Homo sapiens: one gene and its partner. The protein of the gene in region 1 purifies or fractionates together with the protein of each later gene. This does not show direct contact. Each region holds a gene or a part of one and is shown in the gene's direction. Other genes may lie near its edges.

Evidence for each region.
Region 2: the proteins of GIT2 (region 1) and TUFT1 purify together in Homo sapiens (affinity purification with mass spectrometry, with the first as the bait; one large-scale study listed by BioGRID). This does not show direct contact.

The regions. Positions count from the first base shown.
Region 1 is NC_000012.12:109,982,869-109,986,368, reverse strand, and holds part of GIT2 (ARF GTPase-activating protein GIT2), read left to right. Parts: intron 1-2,674; coding exon 2,675-2,761; intron 2,762-2,865; coding exon 2,866-2,996; intron 2,997-3,500. UniProt on the Homo sapiens protein: GTPase-activating protein for ADP ribosylation factor family members, including ARF1.
Region 2 is NC_000001.11:151,543,309-151,546,808, forward strand, and holds part of TUFT1 (tuftelin), read left to right. Parts: intron 1-2,487; exon of another isoform or gene 2,488-2,583; intron 2,584-3,500. UniProt on the Homo sapiens protein: Involved in the structural organization of the epidermis. Involved in the mineralization and structural organization of enamel.

The DNA.
Region 1 (3,500 bases):
TGAGCCACTGCGCCCAGCCATGGTGGATTAACTTTTGATGTGCTACTGGATTTGGTTTGCTAATATTTTGTTAAGAGTTTTTTAAAAAATCTGTGTTCATCATGGATTTTGGCCTGAAGTTTTCCTTTTTTGTTGTGTCTTTGCCAGATTTTGGTATCAGGCTGATGTTGGCTTCACAGAATGAGTTAAGGAGGAGTCTCTCCTCTTTGATTGTTTGGAATAATTTTAGTAGGATGTTCTTCTTTGTATGTCTGGTAGAATTCAGCTGTGAATCTCTTGAACTGGGGAGACGAAGGTTGCAGTGAGCTGAGATCATGCCACGGCACTCCAGCCTAAACGACAGAGTCTCACTCTGTTGCCCAGGCTGGAGTGTCGTGGCACAATCATGGCTGACTGCACCCTCAACCTCCCTAGTCTCAAATGATTCTCCCACCTCAGCCTCTCAAGTGGCTGAGATCTCAGGCATGTGCCACCAAGCCTGGCTAGTGTGTGTGTGTGTGTGTTTTGTTTTTGTTTTTTTTAGATAGAGTCTCTGTTACCCAGGCTGGAGTGCAGTGGCACGATCTCGGCTCACTGCAACTTCCACCTCCTGGGTTTAAGCGATTCACCCGCCTCAGCCTCCTGAGTAGCTTGGATTACAGGTGCCCACCACCATGCCCGGCTAATTTTTTTTGTATTTTTAGTAGAGACAGGGTTTCACCATGTTGGCCAGGCTGGTCTTGAACTCCTGACCTCAAGTGATCTGCCTGCCTCGGCCTCCCAAAGTACTGGGATTACAGGCATGAGCCACCGCGCCTGGCCAGTTTTTGACTTTTTGGAGAGATGGGGTTTCACCATGTTGTCCATACTGGTCTCAAATTCTTGGGCTTAAGCAGTCTGCCTGCCTTGGCCTCCCAAAGTGCTGGGATTACAGGCGTGAGCCACCACATCTGGCCTTTTTTCCCCCCCCTTTTTTAATCCCCAGCAGAATCTGGCTGAAGAATTCAGAATTTGAAATTTTGCATAGAAATGCATATACTAGCTACTTCCATTGATTAATAAGACTTGGTATGTGTTGGGTTTTTTGTTTTTTGTTTTTTTTTCCTTGCCAGAGTTTTAAAAAATTAGGCACAGTGGCACATCCCTGTAATACTAGCTACTTGGGAGGCTGAGGTGGAAGGGTTGCTTGAGCCAAGGAGTTCAGTCCTGCCTGGGCAACATAACGAGACCCTGTGTTTAAAAAACAAAAAAACTATTTAAAAAATTAAACTTAGATGTTAGAGTAGATTTCTTCATTCCTGTGATAAGGGTTACTGCATCTTGGACAATTCTAGGTTAGATTTGAAGGAAGGCAGCTCATCTTCTGACTGTATAAGAGCTTTTCTGCAGTAGTACAGAATTCGGTATATCACGGGCCTTTTCCTACCCTGAAAGACTTTATTAAAGCATATTATACAGGCCAAGAATAATGTGGTAGAGAGGGTATTGTATAAGGCAGGATCCTGTAGCTTACACAGTGTAGAATTTGAAGTCCTAAAGCCCTAATTACAGTAACAACTAATAATAATAACTGTTATTATAGCATTTGTATTCTTTGAGCACTTTATTATATCACTAAATCCTTATAATAACCCTGTGAATAGGGCCAGGCACGGTAGCTCATGCCTGTAATCCCAACACTTTGGGAGGCCGAGGTGGGAGGATCACTTCAGCTCGTAAGTTCGAGATCAGCCTGGGCAACATAGTGAGACCTCATCTGTATTGAAAAATAAAAAGTTAGCAGGGCATGGTGGCCGGCGCCTGTAGTCCCAGCTGTTTGGGAGGCTGAGGTGGAAGGATTGCTTGAGCCCAGGATACTGAGGCTGCAGTGAGCCATGATCACTCCACTGCACTCCAGCCTGGATGACAGAGCAAGCGAGACCCTTTCTAAAAAGAAAAATGCCACCTTTTAAAATTTTTTTTATTTTTTATTTTTTTTGAGACAGGGTCTCGCTCTGTCACCAAGGCTGGAGTGCAGTGGCATGATCACAGCTCACTGCAGCCTCCACTGCCCAGGCTCAGGTGATCTTCCCACCTCAGCCTCCTTAGTAGCTGGGACTACAGGTGCGCATGCCACCACACCCAACTAATTTTTGTATTTTTTGTAGAGCCAGAGTCTTGCTATGTGGCCCAGGCTGGTCTCAAACCCCTGGGCTCAAGTGATCCTCCAACCTCAGCCCCCCAAAGTGCTGGGATTACAGGCATGAGCCACTGCATCTGGCCATTGTTGACATTTTTGAGATGAGGAAAGTGAGGTTCAGATTGCTTAAAGCCCTTTCTCCAGGCCACACAGCTTGAAGTGGGTATAGTTTGAAATTCAGGTCTGTCGTATGTCAGAGCCACGCATAGTCACCTCTTCACACAGTCCTGCCTCTCACTCAGGTTCTGGTTGTGCCACTTCTTAGATAAGTCATGCATTTGGGCAAGTCAGCCTTCACAGCCCTAGTTTCCTTATCAGTAAAGTGGCCTCACTCCACCTTACAGCCCAGGGACAGTTGTGACTGGCAAAGGAGAGACTGGTCCATGCACTTTACCGAGACAAATAAAGATTATGCGTTACTGATGTAACATATATTAAAATGGTCTATCAGCTGCCCTAGGACATCATTCTTTACACCTCTAACCACGATTCCTTTTTTGTTTCTGCGTTTTTCAGCAACTCCATTCGAGCGTGAGAACAGGGAATCTTGAAACCTGTTTGAGACTGTTATCTTTAGGAGCACAAGCCAACTTCTTTCATCCTGTAAGAAAACATGAATTGCTTCAGATATTGAAACTAAGTGAGTTGTGTTCATGTAGCCTTTATTTAATGTGCTCTTTTGCCTACTTTTTATTAATGATTCTTAGGAAAAAGGAAACACCCCACTCCATGTTGCCTCCAAAGCAGGGCAGATTTTACAGGCTGAATTATTGGCAGTATATGGAGCAGACCCAGGCACACAGGATTCTAGTGGGAAAACTCCCGTTGATTATGCAAGGTAAGAGACCTAGATTCTCGCTACTTCTCTCTGGGATTTTTTTGTTGGGTGTGATTCCTTGTTAAGTAGCTAAGTTGTATATGTTGATATTGAACCCCTTTAAAGATGTACGTTATTTTATTTTACAGATGAAGACATTTCAAATGCATATAAGCTCAGCCTGGCAAAGTTGAGGAAGGCTAGAATCATGAACCAGTGTGCTAAGCTTCCAGTCTTTTACTTGATCCTTTATAACACAGTGATGTTTGAGCTGTAGTCAGATTCCAAATCAAGTATCAAGAATTACAGAATGTACTCTTCTGTTTTTTAATACTCTTAGTTATTTCTTGAACTTAAAAGCAAATATATACATAGATATGTGATTAAACAAGTATAGTAAAAAGTTAATTGTAAGGTTTGGGTAGTAGACATCTAAGTGCTCACTCTAGGCCAGGCATGGTGGCTCACACCTGTAATCCCAGCACTTTGAGGGTCCAAGGCGGGTGGGTTACTTGAGGCCAGAAG
Region 2 (3,500 bases), on another chromosome or scaffold:
TATTTCAGTTATATATATATGTGTGTGTGTGTGTGTGTGTGTGTGTGTGTGTATTATATATGTACGTGTTTGTTTACTGGGTCTTGATGTGAAATATGTTTTTGAGATTGAAAAGTTTTGCAAGCCACTGTGGTAAGTTATATTGGCAAATAAAAGAACAAATAAACACCAAACTCCTTTTTACTAGATATTTCCATTAACTTCCTTTGGTTATAAACAACAGAGAATGACTCCAGCTAAACTAAGCAGATGAGGAAATTATTAGAAGGAAATAGAGCAGTTCACAGAATTTAAGGGAAAGCTTAGAAAGCCCTAACCAAGGATGTTCTGGGGCCTGGGTAAGTGGAACGATGGAGGCTTACTACTATTGGTGAATTGGTTCCAGCTGTTTTAGGTCTCTGCACCATTATGCTCAAGATTCCAGGGAGAGAGTACCATTGTCCCTTGGCCCCCAGTTGTCCAGAGCAGGACAGGGTTCCTTGACTGATAGGCCCCCCCCAGATTACAGTGATGGAAGGAGATTCTCCAAAGACCCAAGTGTTGTTATCAGTGGAGGGGAATGGAAGCTGCGTGGCAAAAGAACAGATGTCTATGACATTAGACTTTACCATGGATGATCTCTGATTTCATTTCCCTCCTTCCCTCTCTTCCTTCTTTCCATCCTTCTTTAAATCACTTTTTTTTTTTTTTTTGAGACAGGGTCTCACTCTGTTGCCCAGGCTGGAGTGCAGTGGTGTGATCATAGCTCACTGCAGCCTTGAACTCCTGGACTCAAGGGATCCTTTCACCTCAGCCTCCCAAGTAGCTGGGACCACAGGCATACTCAACATGTTTAGCTAATTTTTCATTTTTCGTAGATATGGGTTCTCACTATGTTGCCCAGGCTAGTCTTGAACTCCTGGTTTAAAGTAATCTTCCTGCCTCGGCCTCTCAAAGTGCTGGGATTACAGGTGTGCACCACTGCACCTGGCCTTAAATCACCTTTTTTTTGGGCGGTGGGAGGGGGAGGATGGAGTCTCACTCTGTCACCCAGGCTGGGGTGCGGTGGCACAATCTTGGCTCACTGCAACCTCCATCTCCCTGGTTCAAGCAATTCTCCTGCCTCAGCCTCCCGAGTAGCTGGGATTACAGGCATGGGCCACCATGCCCAGCTAATTTTTGTACTTTTACTAGAGATGGGGTTTCATCATGTTGGCCAGGCTGGTCTCAAACTCCTGACCTCAAATGATCTGCCCGCTTCGGCCTTCCAAAGTACTGGGATTACAGGCGTGAGCCACCGTGCCTGGCCTCTTAAATCACTTTTTATCAAAGGAGTTTCACTCTTGTTGCCCAGGCTGGAGTGCAACGACGTGATCTCGGACATTTAAAATCACATATGTGCATGATTTTAAAGTATCAAAGTATCAATAATATCAAAAGGCTTTTAAAAGAAAATAGCAGTCCCCTGCTCCAAGTTCTGCTCCATGGAAGTAACCACTTTCTACTCTTTGAGCTGTTTTGTGTTTACCTCCATGTTTCTAAATAATATGCTTACAGTGATTTTAATTGATTTATCAGTTTTAGACATCTATTGACTTCTGTTGTAGGAATTATAGGAAAATCTATACTCCCACCCCTGACATGCTTCCTTCCCATCCTCCCAGTGTAATTGTATTACAATTTTTGGTAATGTAATAAACTAGTTTCTGTTAATAGCATTGTGGTCAAGAGCATGGCTCTGGGCTGAGTGCAGTGGCTCACGTCTGTAATCCCAGCACTTTGGGAGGCTGAGGCAGGTGGATCACCTGAGATCAGGAGTTCGAGACCAGCCTGACCAACATGGCAAAACCCCATCTCTACTAAAAATACAAAATTAGCCAGGTGTGGTGGTGCGCACCTATAATCCCAGCTACTTGGGAGACTGAGGCAGGAGAATCATATGTACCCAGGAGGTGGCGGTTGCAGTGAGCCGAGATCACGCCATTGCACTCCAGCCTGGGCAACAAGAGTGAAACTCCGTCTCAAACAAACAAAAAAAAGAGCATGGCTCTGGGAATCTGACTAAGGTGGGCTCTAATCAGGCTTTGATGTCTGCTTTGCCCAAGCTCACTTAGGCAAATTACTTAATTTCTTCATTCTTAGTTTTCTCACTTGTAAAACTGGGATAATAATTGCACCCTTCTCATAAGGTAGTTGTGAGGATTAAATTAGATAATACACATAAAATATGAAGCACAGTGCCTGGCATGTGGTAAGTACTCAGAGGTTAGCTATTATTTTCTATTTCTACTGGCTTAGACTAGACTGTTTTAACCTCCTATAAGCAACCAGCCAAGGGATGGAGGAAGAGTCTGGGAACTCTCTGGTTTGGGCAAGGTTTGCTCCTCCTCATTATGCTGACTTTTGTTTATTCCTGTTTCTTTCTCGTTTCCTTGATGATCCAGGTCCCTCAACCAGTGGAGAGTCCCAGGGGTGAGAGGAAGGCCTACAGATAGACCCAGGGTGAAGACCTGAGTAACCTTTGCTAGTCCTGACTCAGCCAGTACTGGTCTTAGACTGGTGATGGGTCAGGGTTCATATTTTGGCATCTCTCTCTGGGCATCTTTCCTCTTCTTTTTTAGACCTCATGACCAAGGCAGCTGGTGTCCCCTGCTGCTCTGGTTTCTTTAAGTAATATATCAGTTTTATCTTTCTTTCGAATATTTGCATTTTTTTCTTTTTTTTTTTTTTCTACAGCATCTTTTTATTGTCTTTACCATTACTTTAATGCATTTTAAAATTTATCTACATTAATTGGGAACTATTTGCATTTTTTTCATCCTCTCTCTCTTTTTCTTTTTCTTTTTTTGGATTTGTCTTGGCCAGAGAGGTTCTCCAACACCCGGGTGGACTTGGAATTTTTTTATCAGCTGCAATCTGAAGACTTGTCTTTACTGTGGAATAGGTGACATTCCTTTAGGACCTCAGAAGCTCAAGTAGTTTAATGCCAAGTCTTTCCAGAGCCTCACTCTCTTTTATTTTTTAAATTAGAATTGTGATTTATTGAAGCCTTACCATGAGCTTCATATAATTTTTTATGAACAGCTTTATTGAGATATAATTCATATACCCCATTTAAAGTATGTAACTCAGTGGTTTTTAGTACATTCACAGAGTTGTGCAATCATCAATAAATCAATTTTAGAACATTTCCTTACCTTATAAAGAAATCCTGACCCATTAGCAGTCACTCCCCATTTCCCCCCAATCTCTCTCAGCCCTAGGCAGCCACCAGTCTACTTTTTTTCTCTATGGATTTACCTATTGTGGATATTTAATATAAATGTAATCATCGGTATGTGATCCTTTGTGACTGGCATCTTTTATTAGAATGATGTTTTCAAGGTTCATCCATGTTGTAATGTGAATCAGTACTTCATTCCTTTTTATGGCTGAATAATATTCCATTATTTAGATGTATTACAACTGTGTTCGTCATGGATAAATGTTGGTGGACATTTGGGTTCTTTCTACTTTTTGGC